Homo sapiens: one gene and its partners. The protein of the gene in region 2 purifies or fractionates together with the protein of the main gene of each other region. This does not show direct contact. Each region holds a gene or a part of one and is shown on either strand. Other genes may lie near its edges.

Evidence for each region.
Region 1: the proteins of CCN6 (region 2) and CRELD2 purify together in Homo sapiens (affinity purification with mass spectrometry; 3 studies listed by BioGRID and IntAct, with this or other methods). This does not show direct contact.
Region 3: the proteins of CCN6 (region 2) and DDX47 purify together in Homo sapiens (affinity purification with mass spectrometry; 3 studies listed by BioGRID and IntAct, with this or other methods). This does not show direct contact.

What each region holds. Positions count from the first base shown.
Region 1 is NC_000022.11:49,921,634-49,928,062, forward strand, and holds the end of CRELD2 (protein disulfide isomerase CRELD2 isoform b precursor), read left to right. Parts: coding exon 1-128; intron 129-237; coding exon of another isoform or gene 238-272; exon of another isoform or gene 273-361; intron 362-660; coding exon of another isoform or gene 661-810; intron 811-978; coding exon 979-1,074; intron 1,075-1,600; coding exon 1,601-1,684; exon of another isoform or gene 1,685-1,827; intron 1,828-2,726; coding exon 2,727-2,822; intron 2,823-3,783; coding exon 3,784-3,924; coding exon of another isoform or gene 3,925-4,037; exon of another isoform or gene 4,038-4,935; intron 4,936-5,621; coding exon 5,622-5,674; 3' UTR 5,675-5,904; downstream 5,905-6,429. UniProt on the Homo sapiens protein: Protein disulfide isomerase. Might play a role in the unfolded protein response. May regulate transport of alpha4-beta2 neuronal acetylcholine receptor.
Region 2 is NC_000006.12:112,049,560-112,057,113, forward strand, and holds the start of CCN6 (cellular communication network factor 6 isoform 1 precursor), read left to right. Parts: upstream 1-4,544; 5' UTR 4,545-4,775; coding exon of another isoform or gene 4,776-4,798; coding exon 4,799-4,846; intron 4,847-7,554. UniProt on the Homo sapiens protein: Plays a role in mitochondrial electron transport and mitochondrial respiration. Through its regulation of the mitochondrial function may play a role in normal postnatal skeletal growth and cartilage homeostasis.
Region 3 is NC_000012.12:12,823,346-12,830,370, forward strand, and holds the end of DDX47 (probable ATP-dependent RNA helicase DDX47), read left to right. Parts: intron 1-524; coding exon 525-671; intron 672-1,194; coding exon 1,195-1,332; intron 1,333-2,654; coding exon 2,655-2,725; intron 2,726-3,900; coding exon 3,901-4,030; intron 4,031-6,077; coding exon 6,078-6,209; 3' UTR 6,210-6,636; downstream 6,637-7,025. UniProt on the Homo sapiens protein: Required for efficient ribosome biogenesis. May have a role in mRNA splicing. Involved in apoptosis.

The DNA.
Region 1 (6,429 bases), on a different chromosome or scaffold from region 2:
CGGAGATGGGAGCAGACAGGGCGACGGGTCCTGCCGGTGCCACATGGGGTACCAGGGCCCGCTGTGCACTGACTGCATGGACGGCTACTTCAGCTCGCTCCGGAACGAGACCCACAGCATCTGCACAGGTACGGGCTACGCCTGGGCTGGCCCCGGGGTTGAGGCGGGATGACAAGAGCCCCTTGCTGGAGCTGCCTGCCTAGATGGGAACAGGGGCCTGTTGATCTTTAACCCCAGATGTCCAAGGAAGCTTCGAGGGCCCAGAAGGATGAATGAAAACATCAGAGGATAGAGGCAGAGGTTGTCGGGCACTTCCTGTCCCGTAACAGCCCTCAGAAGGGAGAAGCTACTCACCTTTCTCTCTAGTTCAAGGTCCACCCCGACCTTGAGTTGTGATGGGCCATGCAGTGCACAGGTCCTGGAGGTGCCGTGTGGGCCCCGCACCGGCCCAGAGAGCAGCATCTGTCAAATCCCTGCAGGCCGTTATGAGTGGCATCTTTCCAAAGGACGTTTTCTCCCTGGTTGTCACTGATATGTAGGAAAACTCTGAGTGTCTCGGACGTGAGTGTGTGGTTGGCCGGCAGCCCCTAGGCTATTCTGGGCAGACAGACCCGTGGATCGATAGTCAGGACCGGCCTCTCCGATTCTTACGCCCCTCAGCAGTCAGGACCGGCCTCTCCGATTCTTACCCGCCTTGCTGTCTGTCTCTTGGATGTTGGCGTGGCGTGGGCCACGCATGGATCCGTGGCCGGAACACGCACACCCAGCCAGGCTACAGCTCCAGAGTATGGATAGCTGCCTTCTCTCCAGGTTATTAAAAATTCCTTGGAGTCCTGGTTTGCTGAGAATTTTAAATTCATGGGCACTGAAAATCCCGTGTTGCTTTTCCCTCTTAAATTCCTCACTTTTAAACGAGCCTTGTCCCCAAGCTGGTACCTGAGAGTGGGGTTTGTACCCAGGCCCGCCTTTGCCTTCCAGCCTGTGACGAGTCCTGCAAGACGTGCTCGGGCCTGACCAACAGAGACTGCGGCGAGTGTGAAGTGGGCTGGGTGCTGGACGAGGGCGCCTGTGTGGGTGAGGAGCGGCCCGGGGGTGGAGGAGGGCGCCTGCGTGAGGCGTGGGGGGTGTGAGATGGGGGCGTAAGGCGTGGGGGGTGTGAGGCATGGGGGCGGGAGGCAGGGGGGCGTGAAGTGTGGGGGCGTGAGGTGGGGGCGTGAGGTGTGGGGCTTGGGGTGTGGGGGGCGTGAGGTGTGGGGGAGCATGAGGTGGGGCGTGAGGTGTGGGGGCGTGAGGTGGGGGCGTGAGGTGTGGGGGCACTCACTGTCTCACTCTCACACAATGTGTCGCCATCCTCATGGGGCGCCTGCCCCGGTTGGCACTGAGTGTCTAAGGACAGGGCCTGGCCATCGCCTCATCCCCTCCCCTGCCGCGTGGGGCCTCCGAGGATGGCATTTGAGATGATTCCTCCTCAGGGGCTGCCCTCCTCCCTGCCCTTCCCCAGCCGGCCCTGGCCACGGGCTGTGTCAGGCCATGATCGGTCCTTCCCCGCTCCCTGGCCGGGCTGTCCTGGGCCGCTCACAGCTGTGCCGCTCTGTTCCAGATGTGGACGAGTGTGCGGCCGAGCCGCCTCCCTGCAGCGCTGCGCAGTTCTGTAAGAACGCCAACGGCTCCTACACGTGCGAAGGTGGGCCAGGCGGGCGGGTCTGCACTCCGGGGCCTGCCGGGTTTCGTTGCTGCCTTTGTCAACATTCATTTATGGCTTCTTAGTGTCACTTCCATACATCCTGCCTGCCCTGAGAACACTTAGTGTGGCAAAGTAAGTCATAGGTATTTGCTGCAGGAAAATCAGAAAATTCAAGTCAGATGAAAAGAAAACAGTTAAAAACCCAGGAACTCCCTGGAGAGCGCACCCTGCTGGTGCCTCCACTGCTCGTGCCCCCCCAGCGCCCCCGCAACGTGCCCTGCGTGACTTTCCGCAGCGCCTGTCGGGTGTTTTCCACTCAGCAGCTTGTTGCGAACGTCTCTGCGTCCTGTGGTTTCTCTGTCACGCTAATGATTTTGGAGCCATTATTTCATACTTTTACAACAATGTCTGTTGCTGGACGTTTACGTCATAACAGTTTTTCAACTTATAAACTGTGAACACTTGAAGGTAAACTTTTCACATTCCTTATGATTTTCTGTGGATTAATTTCCAAATCGCTCAGTCAAGGGAATGTGTCTTTTAGAGCCATAGTGCCCCAGAAAAGTTGTGCTGATCCCCAGTCCCAGCAGCAGGGAGGAGGCCGCCTCTGCCCCGTGTGTGTGACAGCCCCAGGCAGTTTTCACTGTTGGGAGTGCAGACAGTGGGTCCCTCAGTGAGCCACTAATACTGGAAGCCATGCGAGAGGCTCTGGTTATTCTTAGGAAGCTCCTGGCAGGCTGGCAAACCAATGGTCACCGAGCTGGAGGTGGGTTTGTTTCTAGAATCTCTGTAGCACCCAGTTTCTCCCAAAGAGTTCCAAGCCAGGTGGTCTGCACCATGGCTCTCCGGGAGCACCTGCTGCACAGCAGGACGCGAGTCTGTGCTTTTGCCGGGAGACAGAGACAGATCGTTATAAAGTCACTTGGTGATGAATGAGGAGAAAACCCAAATCCTGGCGGCACCGGTGCCTTGTGCATGTCGGGGTCTGACGGGCACTGGTGCCTTGTGCATGTCGGGGTCTGACGCTGGCTCCCTGTTGCAGAGTGTGACTCCAGCTGTGTGGGCTGCACAGGGGAAGGCCCAGGAAACTGTAAAGAGTGTATCTCTGGCTACGCGAGGGAGCACGGACAGTGTGCAGGTCAGTGACGGGGTCTGTGCTGGACGCTGGTGGACCCTTCCCAAGTGACCATGATGTGAATGGCCCCAGCAGGTACTGCCAGGGATGGGAAGCAGTTGAGACCCGTCCTGCAGACGTGGCTCCCCCAGGGTCACTGTGCACTCGCCCTGAGGTCCACGTGAGACACAGAAGCAGTGGGGGTGGGGGACGGGCTCTGCATGGCCGACCCTGGTGTGGATGGCGCTGCTGCACCAGCCTCTCGCCGGTGGCCTCGTTCCCCAGGTCCACCGCCTCTGCTCTCCCTCCAGCTCCTGGGTGGCGATTGCCCCGAGGCTTAAGTCCAGGCCTGCCATGGTTGTGGGCTGCCTGGGTGAGCCTGGGCGTGGATGGAACCCGGTGGAGAAAGTGGGTTTCCTGGGCAGGCGCCATGGTTCATGCCTGTAATCCAGCACTTTGGGAGGCTGAGGCGGGGGGATCACGAGGTCAGGAGATCGAGACCATCCTGGCTAACACGGTGAAACCCCATCTCTACTAAAAATACAAAAAATTAGTCGGGCGTGGTGGCGGGCGCCTGTAGTCCCAGCTACTCGGGGGGCTGAGGCAGCAGAATGGCGTGAACCCGGGAGGCGGAGCTTGCAGTGAGAGGAGATCGCGCCACCGCACTCCAGCCTGGGCGACAGAGCGAGACTCCGCCTCAAAAAAAAAAAAAAAAGGAAAAGAAAGTGGGCTTCCTGGGCGCATGCTGGCCTTCCGGCCCCACCTGGAGGTCTCTTCTCTGCATTTTCTACCAGTTGAGGGCCCAACTTGGAGACGTGAAATTCTTCCCTCTCGAAGCCTTTCCTGATCTTTGCTCCTTTCTGTAACGTGACGTTTGTCATCGTTGTGCTTTCTTTATGTGAATGAATCTGAATGAATGAATTTCATAATCCGCTGCGCGTCTGCTGAGCAAAGTAATTATTAAAACGGAGTCTTTTCATTTTAGATGTGGACGAGTGCTCACTAGCAGAAAAAACCTGTGTGAGGAAAAACGAAAACTGCTACAATACTCCAGGGAGCTACGTCTGTGTGTGTCCTGACGGCTTCGAAGAAACGGAAGATGCCTGTGTGCCGCCGGCAGAGGCTGGTGAGTGGCACGGCTGCCCTCCACACAGGCTGCCCTCCCCTGGGCCGCAGGGCTTGCACGTAGACTGGCTGCTTGGTCTGAAATCCACACAGATGGTGGCCTTGAGATGGTGAGAGGGGGATTCCCGGAAGACAGGTGCATGACATCTCTGTGTGGGCACGCTTGCGCGAGAGGTACTGGCTTCCTGAGGATGAAGCCCCAGGTTCACAGCTCAAACGGAAGTTCAGGCGATGAAGGGGGAAGTCTCTGAAGCTCAGACCTCAGCGGGCGATGAGCAGAGGAGCAGACGCAGGAGAAGAGGCAGCTAAAGAGCTGGAAAAGTCATCCGGGGAAGCTGCCCAGGGTGCCGCAGAGACAGGGACAGGCAGGAAGTGGTGGAGGGCAAGCGGGTCCCCCACACCTGTTTCCTGGGGCTACCTTACCAAGAACCAGGAACTTAGGGCTCCAGCAACAGAAATGTGCCGCTCACAGGAGCCAGAAGTCAGAGGCCCAGACGCAAGCAGGCTGCTTCCTTGGGAGGCTGGGTGGGCGCGTCTGTTCCGGGCCTCTGTCCTCGCCTGGGGATGCCACCTGCTCCCCGTGTCTTCACGTGGTCTCCATGCGGGTGTCTGTCTCTGTCCAAACCTCCCCTCTTTGTAAGGACACCAGTCACTAATGCCCTCATGTTAACCTGGCCAGTGGTAAAGACCCTATTTCCAAACAAGGTCACAATCACAGGTACTGGGAGTAAAGACTTCAGCGTGTTTTGGGGGACATAAATCTGCCCGTGACAGTCCTCACAGAAGTCTAGAATATAGAGAGTGGGAAAGAAGCAGTGTTCAAGGAGATATTGGCTAAGGGTTTTTCAGAATGAATAAGGCACGATTCAGATTCCAGAAGCTGTTTCCTGAGCAGGACAAATAAAAGCAATTCCACATCTAGAAGCATCGTAGTAAACAGCAACAGCAAGACAGAACTGAGGGGTTAGCAGAGACGGACAGGCCAGAAGACAAGGCTGCCTGCTACCCCCTCGGTCCCCTCTGCCCTGGGCTGGCCCTGCCTCTTGCCCCTCCCTCCCCCCACCCTCGGTCCCCTCTTGCCCCTCCCTCCCACCACCCTGGGTCCCCTCTTGCCCCTCCCTCCCCCCACCCCGGGTCCCCTCTTGCCCCTCCCTCCCCCCCTCTTGCCCCTCCCTCCCCCCACCCCGGGTCCCCTCTTGCCCCTCCCTCCCCCCACCCCGGGTCCCCTCTTGCCCCTCCCTCCCCCCACCCCGGGTCCCCTCTTGCCCCTCCCTCCCCCCCGTCCCCTCATTCTCCTCCCTCCCCCCCACCCTCGGTCCCCTCTTGCCCCTCCCTCCCCGTACCACCCTCAGTCCCCTCTTTCTCCTACCTCCCCCACCCTCGGTCCCCTCTTTCTCCTCCCGCCACAACCATTGTTCAGGCTCCCATTCTGCCAGGCCGCAAGGAACCCCTTGCCGCTCCCAACTCTGCATCCTCCACACCCACGGCAGCGTGGGGGCTCTGAAATGCCGTCTGCCTCATCTCTCATCTGCTTTGTGGGAAACGGGGGTCTCCGAGCTGCCCTTGGATGGCTGCGTCCGGGGCTTTGAGCCAGGACTGGACGGGCAGGCCCTGCACATGCGCTGCTGTCCTGGGAAAGGCCTCATCCCCAGGGCCCTTTGTGCTCAGCCTTGACGACCTATGCTTGTTTTCTGACAGAAGCCACAGAAGGAGAAAGCCCGACACAGCTGCCCTCCCGCGAAGACCTGTAATGTGCCGGACTTACCCTTTAAATTATTCAGAAGGATGTCCCGTGGAAAATGTGGCCCTGAGGATGCCGTCTCCTGCAGTGGACAGCGGCGGGGAGAGGCTGCCTGCTCTCTAACGGTTGATTCTCATTTGTCCCTTAAACAGCTGCATTTCTTGGTTGTTCTTAAACAGACTTGTATATTTTGATACAGTTCTTTGTAATAAAATTGACCATTGTAGGTAATCAGGAGGAGAACGGGCGTGGGTTTGTCTCATTAATCAGGACGGACCTTTACCACTGAGTTTGCACCTGTCCTGCCAGAGCCGGGAGTGACCAGGGCTGCCGAGGTCCGCAGAGGCAGCAGGTCCGGTCCTGGGCTGGTGGCTCTGCTGTCCCTGAACAGGGCTCACGTGCCGCTTGGGGGAGGAGGGGAGGGCCCTGCCTTGGGCGAGAACCTGAAGACGTGACCAGGTGGGTTTCAGGGGTCCAACCTATGGGCCCTCTTCAGTGATTCAAAGGATGTACAAGCAGGGACCCTCAGGCAGGGGAAAAGCATCTTTGGGGGCTTCGCTGGAGGAAACAGCCACTCACAAACCGCAGGGCCTGCCCGTTCCTCATCTGGGAATGAAGACACTGCAAGAAGAAAGCTGGCTGCGGGTGAGAGGCTGCAGGCTCTGGGAGCTCCGTTCCGGGGGGCCATGGCCTCCTCCCTGGGCTCCTCATAGCCCCCAAGTCCCACTTGGCCTGGTCCCCACCACCCACTCCTCAGTCACGCCG
Region 2 (7,554 bases):
TTGGAATCTTGGTTCTACCTCTTGCTAACCATGTGACCTTGCCCCAGTTTCCTAATAAGTAAACCAAAGATGGTAATCACAGAACACAGGCCCAGTGTTGCTGAAGGATCAGAGGAGTTAATACATATACAGCACTCAGTACAATATTGAGACACAGTGACACTCGGCCAATGTTAGCTCTTATTATTATTATACTTTTTTTTTTGAGACAGGATTTCTCTCTGTTTCCCAGGCTGGAGTGCAGTGGTATGATCATAGCTCACTGTTGCCTCAACATCCTGGGCTCAAGCAATCTTCCTGTCTCAGTTTCCCAAGTAGCTAGGACTACAGGTATGCACCACCACACCTGGCTAATTTTTTTACTTTCTATTTTGTAAAGATGGGGTCTCACTATGTTGCCCAAGCTGTGTTATTGTTACTATATCTCTATTTCACTGGAGCAAATATTGACCCCCCTCATAGCACACATTCAATACATTACTTCCACAAACAATATCTTCTCTTTTCTCAAGGATGTCAATACACCCTTCTCCACAATCAGTAAGATAGGAAGATAAGGAAAGAGGGGATGAGGAAAGGAAGACTCATACTGTACTAAGCTTGCTGACCACAGGCATGAGCTCCAAACACTGCCTGCCCGGACGGCTGGTACTCCCAGGAGAAGGGACTATTCTAGCTGTGATGACGCTCCTAACAGAACGATTTTAGGAATCTTACGGGAAAGGAGTGGGGTGTGCTCTGTGCGGGGGAGCTCACCACCATTAGAGGTGTGCATCTTGCCAGTGGAAGGAGTCCTGGACTGGCAGTTGTCTCCCGACTCTTCATCTAGCTTCATCTCTTGACTAAGTATCACTTCCTCAGATGTCCTCTCTGCCCCCAATCTAAATTAGCTCTCACCTGTCATTCTCTCTTATAATTTCTTCTTTGCTCTTATTAGCCTTTATTCAACTTTCAATGACGGACATTTTGTGTGTTTATTTGTTCAGCGTCTTCTCTCCCAGTAGATTATTTAGCTGTAGAGGGCAGAGATTAAGTGTGTTTTATTGACCAAGTATAATCGCTTAGCTTTCACTTTTTAATCTGTTAAATGAGGTTGGTAATACTGCTTTTGCCCACCTCACTGAGCTGTGAAATTAAAAATGTAATACACAGGAAACTTCTTTGTAAATCATAGAACATGGTGCACATTGAATTATGCTTAGCGCCATGTCTATTGGAACGTACATCACAAACTGAACACTTGTGAAATGAGCTCCTAGACAGATTAGCATTCTGTTAAATGAGATAATAGGGAAACATGCTCAGAACAGGACACACACTGTGAAAGCTCTTATTGTGTAAGGTCAAAAATAGCAGCCCCGACCTCTAAAACTACCATATCCATGGAGTCCACACACAGTCGGCTGGAAAGAGTTAAATAGGAGCTCCCACAGCCAAAGATGTCTAAACACATGTGGGAGTGAGTAACCCAGCGCCAGTGTGTTCTGGAGCTGGGGGAGGTTTTGCAGGTCACTTTTCAAGCAAGATGTTCCTTTCCTACCAAGAGGCAAGGATGGTCAACATCTATCTTCCCCTGCTCCACGTCAGTGAGACTGCAGAGGGATGGAAGACGATTCCAGAAAAATGCCTGCTGCCGCCAGCATTTCACAGACAGCAAACGGGAGGAGGGTGAAACTCCTTAAATTCAAAAATTGCACTGATATGTGCATTACTATATGTGGAACCGGGGGAGAGCTGGAGCTGGAGAGATACAGTTGATGAATACCCCAGTGTTGGGATGCGACTCCTCTGCTTTTCATAGACAAACCAGAAACATGAAATTATCCATCCTGACAGCCGGTGTGGTGTGGGAATCACAGGCTGGTACCCACAGACCAATGGTGATAACCAGGAAGATAAAAAGACAAAGATCAGATTGGACACTGATGGGTCTTGACTCTTTATCCAATTTGCCAGTCTGTGTCTTTTAATTGAAGCATTTAGTCCATTTACATTTAAGGTTAATATTGTTAAGTGTGAAGGTTAATATTGTTATGTGTGAATTTGATCCACATTATGATGTTAGCTGGTTATTTTGCTTGTTAGTTGATGCAGTTTCTTCCTAGCATTGATGGTCTTTACAATTTGGCATGTTTTTGCAGTGGCTGGTACCAGTTGTTCCTCTCCACGTTTAGTGCTTCCTTCAGGAGCTCTTGTAGGGCAGGCCTGGTGGTGACAAAATCTCTCAGCATTTGCTTGTTTGTAAAGGATTTTATTTCTCCCTCACTTATGAAGCTTAGTTTGGCTGGATATGAAATTCTGGGTTGAAAATTCTTTTCTTTAAGAGCATTGAATATTGGCCACCACTCTCTTCTGGCTTATAGAGTTTCTGCCGAGAGATCCGCTGTTAGTCTGATGGGCTTCCCTTTGTGGGTAACCCGACCTTTCTCTCTGGCTGCCCTTAACATATTTTCCTTCATTTCAACTTTGGCGAATCTGACAATTATGTGTCTTGGAGTTGCTCTTCTCGAGGAGTATCTTTGTGGCGTTCTCTGTATTTCCTGAATTTGAATGTTGGCCTGCCTTGCTTGGTTGGGGAAGTTCTCCTGGATAATATTCTGAAGAGTGTTTTCCATCTTGGTTCCATTCTCCCCGTCACTTTCAGGTACACCAATCAGAGGTAGATTTGGTCTTTTCACATAGTCTCATATTTCTTGGAGGCTTTGTTCGTTTCTTTTTATTCTTTTTTCTCTAAACTTCTCTTCTCGCTTCATTTCATTCATTTGATCTTCCATCACTGATACCCTTTCTTCCAGTTGATCGAATCGGCTACTGAAGCTTGTGCATTCATCACGTAGTTCTCGTGCCATGGTTTTCAGCTCCATCAGGTCATTTAAGGACTTCTCTACAGTGAGAACACTGGGACACAGGAAGGGGAACATCACACACCGGGGCCTGTTGTGGGGTGGGGGGAGGGGGGAGGGATAGCATTAGGAGATATGCCTAATGCTAAAGGACGAGTTAATGGGTGCAGCACACCAACATGGCACATGTATACATATGTAACTAACCTGCACATTGTGCACATGTACCCTAGAACTTGAAGTATAATAATAAAAAAAAAAAAAGAAAAGAAAAAGATCAGATTGGACCAAAACAGACACATTTTCTTCACTACTCCATTATCTGGTTTTGTCCTATTTCTTAGGGAGGCAAGATAAGGCGTTGGCATCCTAACTGCAGTGGGTATTCCTTGTTGTTTGATGTGCATATACTTACAGTTTAATGACTCCTTAGTAAGCTCTGTGTGATCTGCAGGTTTTAGGGTGTCCATGGTTCTCCAAGGACACCAGATTCTCTGTGGTGGAGGACAGCCTCGTTTTTCCCAGGCCCTCAGCTCAGGCCTAAGCGAGGCTTGATGTTGTCTTTATACAGTAGTGACTGCCTTGAACAGTAACAAAGGTGAGCAATCGGTATAGGATAGGTAAGGCAGCAGGAAAAGGAGGGATAGGTAACTGATCAAAGGAAATAGAAATAGGCCTTGGGATGGGGGCAGGCAGGTGGGACGCCTCAGGGACCTGAGAGGGACAAAGCACCACGGCAGCTGCAAATGAAGATGGGAACACAGACCCAGGCTGAGAACATGGAGAAGCGAAGGTCCCACATGATGACACAGGAGGAGATGCGCTGGTGGTCACACCTTTCAGGGAGGTGAGTATGAAGAAGAGGAGTACAAACCTGTCAAAATTTTATTTTTAATCTTTTTTTTTTTTTTGAGAATAATTCTCACTCTTGTCCCCCAGGCTGGAGTGCAATGGTGCGATCTCGGCTCACTGCAACCTCCGCCTCCCAGGTTCAAGCGATTCTCCTGCCTCAGCCTCCCAAGCAGCTGGGATTACAGGCGCCTGCCACCACACCTGGCTAATTTTTGTGTCTTTTTTTTTTTTTAGCAGAGACGGGATTTCATCATATTGGCCAGGCTTATTTTTAATCTTAATTCATTAAATGAATGATTGCTACCAGTGTAATTGTTTTATTTTAGGCCCGGAAAAATGGAGGTTAACTTCATTGTCATCTGTCATGGAACTGTGGCCACAAAAAGAGGCGTCTCTCAGGCCAGGTACTGTAGGAGTCCGCCCCCTGCTCCATCTGTATTTTTTCCACTCACAGTCCACCTGGCATGAGAAAGGTGTTGGGATAAAGGTGAGCCCAGGGCACTGTGGGTGCCTCCGAGAGAATCTGAGCTGGGGGAGTCAGGGTCCTTCGAGAGCCTGCCATTAATATGGAGGGGGAAAGCCAGGGCTAGGCTGCGATGGGTGCTGTTGGTGGGGGGGCCAGGCCTGCACTCTGTACGTGAGGGTGAAGCTGGAGAAGGAAGCAGCCTAGAGAGGACCCGGAGCAGGGCAAACACAGATGGAGAAGCTGAGGGCAAGGAAGGGAATGACGTGGGACCCCACCCGTTGTCGGGGGCAGGCTCTGCTCTCCAGGAACAGGTAACACAGTCACTTAGAGAACAGTCACTACTTGCCCTGCCCTCCTGAGTCCCGGGAGGAAAGTGCTCGCCCATTCCTGACCTGTGACACGCTCACTGCGAAGGCAGGTTATTAGAAGAGTCCCATGAAAGTAAACAGGGTATTAAAACGGATCCTTAAAAATGAAAGTGCAGGCTGAAAGTTGGTAGTGTGGGAGGTAGAGGGTGTGTGTTCTTGTGCAGAGGAGCGTGGGGTTTGCAGAGGAGACAGGGGAGCTTTGTGTACCCGGAGCAATGAACAAGCGGCGACTTCTCTACCCCTCAGGGTGGCTCCACGGTCCCAGCGACATGCAGGGGCTCCTCTTCTCCACTCTTCTGCTTGCTGGCCTGGCACAGGTAAGTCCTCTCCCCCGACTCTTTCCCTTCCGGAGGCTATGGCCATCCTTAGTTCTTCAGGCCCAAAACTAAACAAAACGAAGATGGAGGAAGAGGGAGGATCAATGGCTTGTGGAACTACTTCATGAGAAATAGGAAGCCATTTTTCTTTCCAAATAAAGTTCTGTGTTCGTTCATGAGCTTCATGAAAGAAATGTAAAACATTTCTCCCTTTCAGGTAATGGCACCGAAGCCTCCTTTCGCTATGTTTGAACAGCGCCACGCTTTCCTATATATTTTTATAGCAGAGCCTAAGGCACAGCCTGGCACAGTGCGGGAAACAGTGTCTCTCCATGCCAGCTCCAGGCGGAGGCTCAACTTTCCATTGCTGTTTGCAAAATGTGCAAAGAGCCCCTGGAAAAACGAATTTTGACAGCGACTTTTTCCAGTTAAGTCTGTCCTTCTTTGAAAGGGGCACTTTGGAATAAACATTTACATTTTTAAAACATTCTCTTACTTTGTCTTTTCTCAGTCCATGTGTTTCTCACTTCCTGAAAGGGAAGCAGTCCATGGAGGCTTGGAAATATTTCAAGCAACAGACCAAAGGGAAGTTTAACTTACTATGAGCAATTCATTGCCTTAGTCTTTTTAAATAAGAAGATGAAAACAAGGTGACTTAATTGTTGATTTATTTACACGGTAGACAGGAGACAGAGCTTTTGAAATCTGGTGATTTAGGAAACATGGGTGTGTCTGTGAGTTAGTAGTTGATTGGGGCCATAAGTAGTAGATACATCTTAGAAAACAAGGAATTGCAAATTGTTATACCATATAGAGAGAGATTTACGATTTCAAAAGAATCATGACAAGAATGTCAGTGGTCCAGGTCATTGCTGCTGTTCTGTGGAGGGGCTCACTCCCCTGTCTGTGTGCCTCCTATTCCACTGTTCTTGAGAAAAAGCCTGTCATTGTGGATTGAGAGCAGCTAGATGTTCTTAGACAGCAGGTATTCCAACACAGAGAGATGTGTACAAAATAAACAACAACAAACACAGAAAGGTGTTACACAAAGAGCGGTAAAAATGGATTATTTTGTGCTTAACTTTGCTTTTATGAATTCATAAATTCATGAAATAGCTGATAATACCTAGCATTTACTGAATAGCTGCTATATGCCAAATACTGTGCTGGGTGCTTTATTTATTTATTTATTTATTTATTTAGAGACAGAGCCTTGCTCTGTCGTTCCAGGCTGGAGTGCAGTGGTGCAGTCTTGGGTCACTGCAACCTCCACCTCCTGGGTTCAAGCGATTGTTGTGCCTCAGCCTCCCAAGTAGCTGAGATTACAGGCCTACACCACCATGCCTTGCCAATTTTTGTATTTTAGTAGAGATAGGGTTTTGCCCTGTTGGCCAAGCTGGTCTTGAACTCCTGACCTCAAGTGATCCGCCCACCTCGGCCTCCCAAAGTGTTGGGATTACAGGTGTGAGCCACCACCTCCGGCCCAAGGGTGCTTTAGTTATTATCTTAATTATCAAAACAACTTTACAAGGTGGTCATTATTAATCCCATATTACAGAGGAGATCAAATGATGGGAAGTTCTGTAAGATCACAGAGCTGTTGCAAAGCTCGGATCTGTTGTCAAAATGCTTATTCTTTCTATTGCACCATTCTAGTGATGCTTATTGTCCTGAAATTTTGCTGTTGAAAACAATCAAAATATGCCTGAGGAAAAGTGAAAAATATAAGATTCTTTATATTTACCCACATATTGACTATGTCCAGGCCTCTTCATTTCTTCCTGTATTTCTAAGTTACTATCATAACAGAAGATCTTCAGACCGAAGATCCTCCTTTAGTATTTCTTGTGAGGCAGATCAGCTAGCAACAATTTCTCTTAGGTTTTGTTTACCCAGAAACGGTTTTTATTTCACCATCATGTTTGAAAGACAGTTTCACTGGCTATATAATTCTGGATTGACAGGATTTTTTTTTTTCTCCGTTTAACATTGTCTCTGGGCATCTTGTTCTTCTCCATCTCTCCCTCCTCCTCCTTCTTTTGATGAGAAGTCAGATCTCAGTTTTATTGTACTTCTGTATGTAATGCTTCCCCCTTTTCTCAGTCTACTGTTATGATTTTCTTTATTTTGAGATGGAATCACCCTCTGTTGCCTAGGCTGGAGTGCAGTGGCGTGTCTTGGCTCACTGCAACCTCTGCCTTCTGGGTTCAAGCGATTCTCCTGTCTCAGCCTCCTGAGTAGCTGGGACTACAGGTGCACGCCACCACACCTGGCTAAGTTTTTGTATTTTTAGTAGAGATGGGGTTTTGCCATGTTGGCCAGGCTAGTCTTGAACTCCCCGCCTCAAGTGATCCACCTGCCTCGGCATCCCAAAGTGCTGGGATTACAGGCTATTTCAGCTTCATTTTTGAAAGATGGTTTCACTGGCCATATAATTCTGGGTTGACAGGTTGTTTTTTTTTCCTTTCAACATTGTCTTTGCACATCTTCTTCTCAATCTCTTCCTCCTCCTCCGTCTTTTGATGAGAAGTCAGATCTCATTTTTCATGTAATTCAGTATGTAATGCTTTTCTCAGTCTACTGTTATGATTTTCTCTTTATCCTTGGATTTCAACAGTGTTACCTTTTGACCTCAGAGATTATCTGGAAATGCTTCAAAATTGGAAAGTTAAAGAGGCATCCGGGGGCAGTTTTGGGAGTGTGCATTT
Region 3 (7,025 bases), on a different chromosome or scaffold from region 2:
GCCTCTCCCTCTTCTTTTCACCAAAGCATCTGAAAATGTGTCAACTCTTGATTAGGTAAGAGCTGTAATGCAGATTGGCATCCTGTCTGTTTGCTTTAGAGTGCATATCGTGCTTATATTATCACCGATAAGCCAGACATGCCAGGAATTCACAACACATTAAATCACAATACTGAGGTCATGATGTAATCATATAATTCCTTCCCATCCCCATCCTTGAGGTAATTTTTCCTTTGTCTGCTTATTATGTGGCTTTTATTTAGGATGAAGCCCCTGGTTTTGTGCTTTGATATAAGGACTTCTCCTGTTTGCTGAGTACAGATCTCCTGCCTGCCTTAAGGCTAAGTGGGGAATATGTGGTTCACAGAGATGATAATGCTGGTTAAGGAATGCAAAGCTGGCAGCTGGAGGTCTGGATAATTGAAAAGCGACTATAGGCTTAGTCTTTACCTTATGTATATGCCAGGTCTCCAATCCTGTCTCCCAGGTTCAATGACATATATTGTTTTGGGTTTGTAACTTAGGATACCTACCTGGTTTATATTCTAAATGAATTGGCTGGAAACTCCTTTATGATATTCTGCAGCACCTGTAATAATACCCAGAGAACAGCTTTGCTACTGCGAAATCTTGGCTTCACTGCCATCCCCCTCCATGGACAAATGAGTCAGGTAAGGATTCATCATCATCATCAGCCATGCACTGGTGGCGTGAGCGAGATAAACCTCCTAACAGTAGGTTTGTACAATAAGGCCATAGGGCACCGATGCCTGTTTCCATAATTGTTGTAATTTTATGGGCTTTGAAGTGTTGCTCTAGATACTTACTTTCTCCTTTCAGGGTAGCGAGAGGCTCCCATTAGAATATTTCATATGTACCTGTCTGGTTTGCAAGCTGTTGAGTTGATTTATTCAGCCCTAGTGGTAATAATGACTCTGGCCTCTAAAAACATTAATAAATTATTTCCCAGTTACCTTTCTATCGTGTCAAACTACCCTTATTTTGTATCATATATATTTTTTTAATTTTTTGTTGCTTCCATATTTCTGTTTTGACCTGTGAAGCCCCATTCAAAACTTAGGGGGAAAAACCTTTAAAAAATTTATGTCTGTTTGTTCTCGTGTTTGTCTATTTTGTGTTTTGTATTCCAAAACATAGGTTAAGTTTTCCAACATTTCTTTTTCATTACCTCAGAGTAAGCGCCTAGGATCCCTTAATAAGTTTAAGGCCAAGGCCCGTTCCATTCTTCTAGCAACTGACGTTGCCAGCCGAGGTTTGGACATACCTCATGTAGATGTGGTTGTCAACTTTGACATTCCTACCCATTCCAAGGTGAGTCCTATTGCTAACTTACCTTTCTAGTCCTAAAGTGTATTTCTTAATGGACTGTCTTCTGTCTTTCCTTAGTTACAGCAGTTATTTTGTTCCTGGTTAATTAAGTATCAAAAAACAAGAAAGCCCTTGGTTAGTTCATTCACATCATCTTGCACAGGCCTGTGTATGTAACATTAGTACATATGAAAGAGGTAGCCAAGGAGAGTTATTAGATGCTCATAGAAGGGGCTGGTGCGCCACATACTGATCTTGTCACTGTCATTTCTTGAGAATGACAGCTTGTAGTTTTTTTGAGGCGGAGTCTCGCTCTGAGTTTTCTGAGGTGGAGTCTGCACCCAGTCTGGAGTGCAGTGGCGCAATCTTGGCTCACTGCATGCTCTGCCTCCTGGGTTCACGCCATTCTCCTGCCTCAGCCTCCCGAGTAGCTGGGACTACAGGCGCCCACCACCACGCCCGGCTAGTATTTTTAGTAGAGATGGGGTTTCACCGTGTTAGTCAGGACGGTCTTGATCTCCTGACCTCGTGATCTGCCCACCTCGGCCTCCCAAAGTGCTGGGATTACAGGCGTGAGCCACCGTGCCCGGCCTACAGCTTGTAGTGCTTAGTGTATCTCAAGGTTTCTCAGCCTTGGCACTATTAACATTTTAAGCTTTCGAATTCCTTGTTGTGGGGGTTGTTCTTTGAGTTGAAGGATTCCTAGTAGCATTCCTGGCCTTTACCCAGTAGATAACAGCATCACACAGTCTTCCACCTGTGATAATCAGAAATATTTCCAGACATTACCAGTGTCCCTTGAGGATGGCAGAATCACCCCTGGATGAGAACTGTTGTGTCTCTTGTCTTTGTATTTAACTGCTGTAGACAAGATGCTGTCTCATTTGATTTTCATAACAACTCTGTAATATGGGCATGTATTTCTATTCCTGTTCACTAGATAGAAACCAAGGTTCAGAGAGGTTATGTGATTTGCAGGTAATTGTGTAACTGGCAGATGGGAAGGATCAGAGCTGTAATCCAGCTCTGCCTCGAGATCCAGTGCTGTTTTTTAAAATACCATGCAGCCTGCGACCATGTAGATATGCTTTGTAGATTTATCTGTCTGTGAAAGAAGGGAAAGCATTGGATCAATTTTGTGCTGCAAGGAGAACAAAAAAGATGAAGTAGATTTGTCTCAACAAATTGCCCCGGCCATTTATTTTCTCCATGTTACGAAATGAATCTATTTTCTTTCAAAGGTTTTGCAGCAGGACTTTGCATATGTAGTTTTTTTTAAACTTATAATCCATATAACTTGAATTTATTTACCCTTTTTGTTTTAGGATTACATCCATCGAGTAGGTCGAACAGCTAGAGCTGGGCGCTCCGGAAAGGCTATTACTTTTGTCACACAGTAAGTAAATCAGCTTTAGGGCCGAGCAATGTAGAGAAAAGAGCAGAACTTTCAAGCCACTGGCTGAGAACCTGACACTACCATTTACTACACTAATCACTTTCATACTGAAAACCAGGATGAAGGAGTTGAAAGATGGGAATAATAATACCTATCTAGCAGGGTTTTGGTGAAAATTGGAGATTATATATGTAAAAGATCTAGTATAGTATTTGGCATGTAGAATGGTACCTAGAGCTGGAGAGCAATTGCCTTTGTGTCAACTCAGAAAGTATTAGAATAACTATTTCCAATTGTTTTTTTTAAAGAAACAAATTTTTATGTACCCAAGGCTGTTCTGTGAATAAATACCTTGAGGGATTTTCTCCCTCCCTCCTTTCCTTTTTTTTTTTGTATTTGTCTCGCTCTGTCGCCTAGGCTGGAGTGCAGTGGTGCAGTCTTGGCTAAGTGCACCTTCCACCCCCTGGGCTCAAGCAATCCTCCTACCTCACCATAGCTTCCCAAGTAGCTGGGACCACAGGTGCATGCCAGCACACCTGGCTTTTTAAAAAATATTTTTAGTAGAGATAGGGTTTTGTCATGTTGGCCAGGCTGGTCTTGAACTCCTGAGCTCAAGCGATCCACCTGCCTTAGCCTCTCATAGTGCTGGGATTACAGGCACAAGCCACCTGCCTGGCCGATTTTTGTTTCTTTTTCTTTTTTTAAGCAGCAAGGTTTCACTCTGTTGACCAGGCTGGAGTGCAGTGACTTGATCATAGCTCACTGCAGCTTCAAACTCCTGGGCTCAAGTAGTCCTCATACCTCAGTCTCCTGAATGGCTGGGATTACAGGCACATGCCACCACGGTTGGCTAATTTTTAATTTTTTATAGAGATGGCATCTCACTGTGTTGTCCAGGCTGGTCTGGAACTCCTGGTCTCAAGTGATTCTCCTGCTTTGACCTCCCAAAGCGTTGGGATTACAGGTGCAAGCCACCATGCCTGGCCTCCCTTGAGTGATTTTCTAATGGGCTATGCACAGAGATTGCACTTAACCCATATTTAGAAAAGAAATAATATGTTCAATATTGTTTAAACCTATGGTTCCTATTGCGTTGTATCATATAATAATAGTTTGGGAATGGACAGGCATTTGCGTTACCAGGCAACCAGAGCTGTGCAGTTTTCCTTCCTCAGGTATGATGTGGAACTCTTCCAGCGCATAGAACACTTAATTGGGAAGAAACTACCAGGTTTTCCAACACAGGATGATGAGGTTATGATGCTGACAGAACGCGTCGCTGAAGCCCAAAGGTTTGCCCGAATGGTATGCATCTTTCTTTTCTCACCAGTGTCTGTGCAAACAATGTTAACTGTGTGCCACTTTATTATATTAACCCTCATACTAAACTGCAGAAGCTGGGTATTATTTTATTCCAAATTTAAGACGAGCAAACTAAGGTGCAGAGATGGTAGGTAATTTGCATTAGACCATACAACCAAATGGTTGAATCAAGGTTTGGCCTCATTCTGACATTCACACATTCACAGCACCTGTTCATGTGTCGCACGTGGTGAGATAGTTCATCAGACTTGAGGTCAGAAGATCCAGCTGTGAACTGTGTGAGCTTGGGAAATTTGCCTGATTTCTCAGAATCAGAATCAGTTTCTCACCTGTAAATTGGGAATAACACTTGCCTGAATACCTTATGGGGTTTTATGAGCACCAGAGAAGCCAATATAAACTACATAGTTACTAGTAGGGGTTGATCATACCTAATCCAAAAATTTGAAATCCAAAACCAAGATCCAAAACTTTTCTTTTTTCTTTTTTTTTTTTTTTTTGAGATGGAGTTTTGCTCTTGTTGCCCAGGCTGGAGCGAATGGTGCAATCTCGGCTCACCACAACCTCCGCCTCCCGGGTTCAAGCGATTCTCCTGCCTCAGCCTCCCGATTACAGGCATGTGCCACCATGCCCAGCTAATTTTGTATTTTTAGTAGAGATGGGGTTTCTCCATTTTGGTCAGGCGAACTTCTGACCTCAGGTAATCCCCCCGCCTCGGCCTCCCAAAGTGCTGGGATTACAGGCTTGAGCCATTGTGCCCAGCAATCCAAAATTTTTTGAGTGCGAAAAGGATTGCCGCAAGTGGAAAATTCCATGCCTGACCTCGTGTGACAGGTTGCTATCAAGACACAGTCAAAATGTTTTTAATGCACAAAAATATTAAAAATATGATGTAAAATTACCTTCAGACAATTAAAAATATTGTGTAAAATTACCTTCATATATAAGGTATATATGAAACAAGTGAATTTTGTGTTTAGAGTTGAGCCCCATCCCCAAGATAGCTCATATGTATCTGCAAATATTCTAGAATTAGAAAAAATCTGAAGTCCGAAACACTGCTGGTCCCAAGCATTTCAGATAAGGGATACTCACCCTGTAAGTAGTAGTAACAGTAATAGTGGTGATGAGAAGATTCTAGAGGAAAACCATTGGAAGTGCTGCCTGCTTTCTGGAGTTCTGGTCTGAGGGATGGAGAAACTTTGCCCATAGTTTGTTTTTGGAGTAGCTGAGGTGCACATTTGGTTTTTATTCTGTCCACATGGGATTTTTTTGTTTGTAAAAGTATTACATGTGCATTGGGAAAAAAATTCAAAAAATACAGAAAGGATTAAAGTAGTAAGTGAAAAGGTAAACCATTCCCCACAGAAAACCATTGATAACATTTGGCTATTTTTCTTTCTTTAGCCATAATTAGACTTTATCTAATTATATAGGATTAACATTTTTCTGTTTCAACAAATACAGATTCATGTGATCGTTTCTTAATGGCTACAAAGAATTCCATCATGTGTATGAAATACTTACATTCATGGATGCTTACGCTTTTTTCCAGTTTCTTTCTACTTTGGTACAGTGTTAAACACCCTACTTTGTACAGCTTTGCATATTTACTTCCTTAGAATAAATTCCTAGAAGTACACTTGTTGGGCCAAGGGACATACACAGTTAAAATTTGAATTCATACAGAATGCCAAATTGTCCCCCGCCCCAAGAAAAGCTATAGCAGATTGCACTATAAATGAGAGTATATGTGAATTTTTCTACACCTTGGCCAATACTGGGGATTACCCTTCTCTTAAGTCTTTGCCAATCTGCCATGTGAAAATAAAACCTTACTTTAGTGTTCACGTTTTGATTACTAATAAGGTTAACATCTTTGTATATTTGGAGTTGGGTCTTGTTCCTTTGCTAATGTCAGGCATCAGCAAGTTACTTGATACTTGATCTTAAGGAGAGGGGACTAGAATGAGTAACCTTCAGTGCCAGTAATTCATTTTCAATCCCATCCTCTCTTTTTTTCTTGCAGGAGTTAAGGGAGCATGGAGAAAAGAAGAAACGCTCGCGAGAGGATGCTGGAGATAATGATGACACAGAGGGTGCTATTGGTGTCAGGAACAAGGTGGCTGGAGGAAAAATGAAGAAGCGGAAAGGCCGTTAATCACTTTTATGAAGGCTCGAGTTCTGCTGTTCTGTAAAAGAGAATTGGAGAATGAAACCTGCTCCAACAGAGATCATGAGACTGAAATTGGTCAGAATTGTGTCCAGAATGTGCTCAGCTAATTCAGTATTCTTCCCCATTCTGGGTTGGAGTTTACTGCAGAGTAATTCTTACAGTGCTGATGTCAAGACTGTTACTGTTCTTCGACTTTGATTCCTTGCTCATGACATGAGTAGGGTGTGCTCTTCTGTCACTTCACACAGACCTTTTGCCTTTTTTAGCTGCAAGTCAAGGACTAGGTTGATGATGCCCATGACCTGTAATTGTAAAGAAGCTTGGACATCTGCAAATGATATTTAAACCATCTTGGCTTGTGCTTTATTCAAACTAATGTGAAACAATAAATTTAAATATTATTTTTAAAAGATTCTAACTCCTTAAAGACCTTGGTGTTAAAGGGCCTTATAGATTTAAGTAAGATCTTGTTAATAGGTAAGAACCTGACAGTGTTGATTACATGGCAAATTCATTGGTTGTCCTAATTAAGATAAATATTTATTACTTAAAAAAATCAACAAGGAAACGAGATGATGGATGGCTTTGAAAGGGAAGCCCCAGCCGGGTGTGGTGGCTCACGCCTGTAATCCCAGCACTTTGGGAGGCCAAGATGGGCAGATCAGGAGGTCAGGAGATTGAGACCATCCTTGGTAACACCGTGAAACCCTGTCTCTACTAAAAATACACACACAAAAAAAACATTAGCCTGGCGTGGTGGCGGGCGCCTGTAGTCCCAGCTACTCGGGAGGCTGAGGCAGG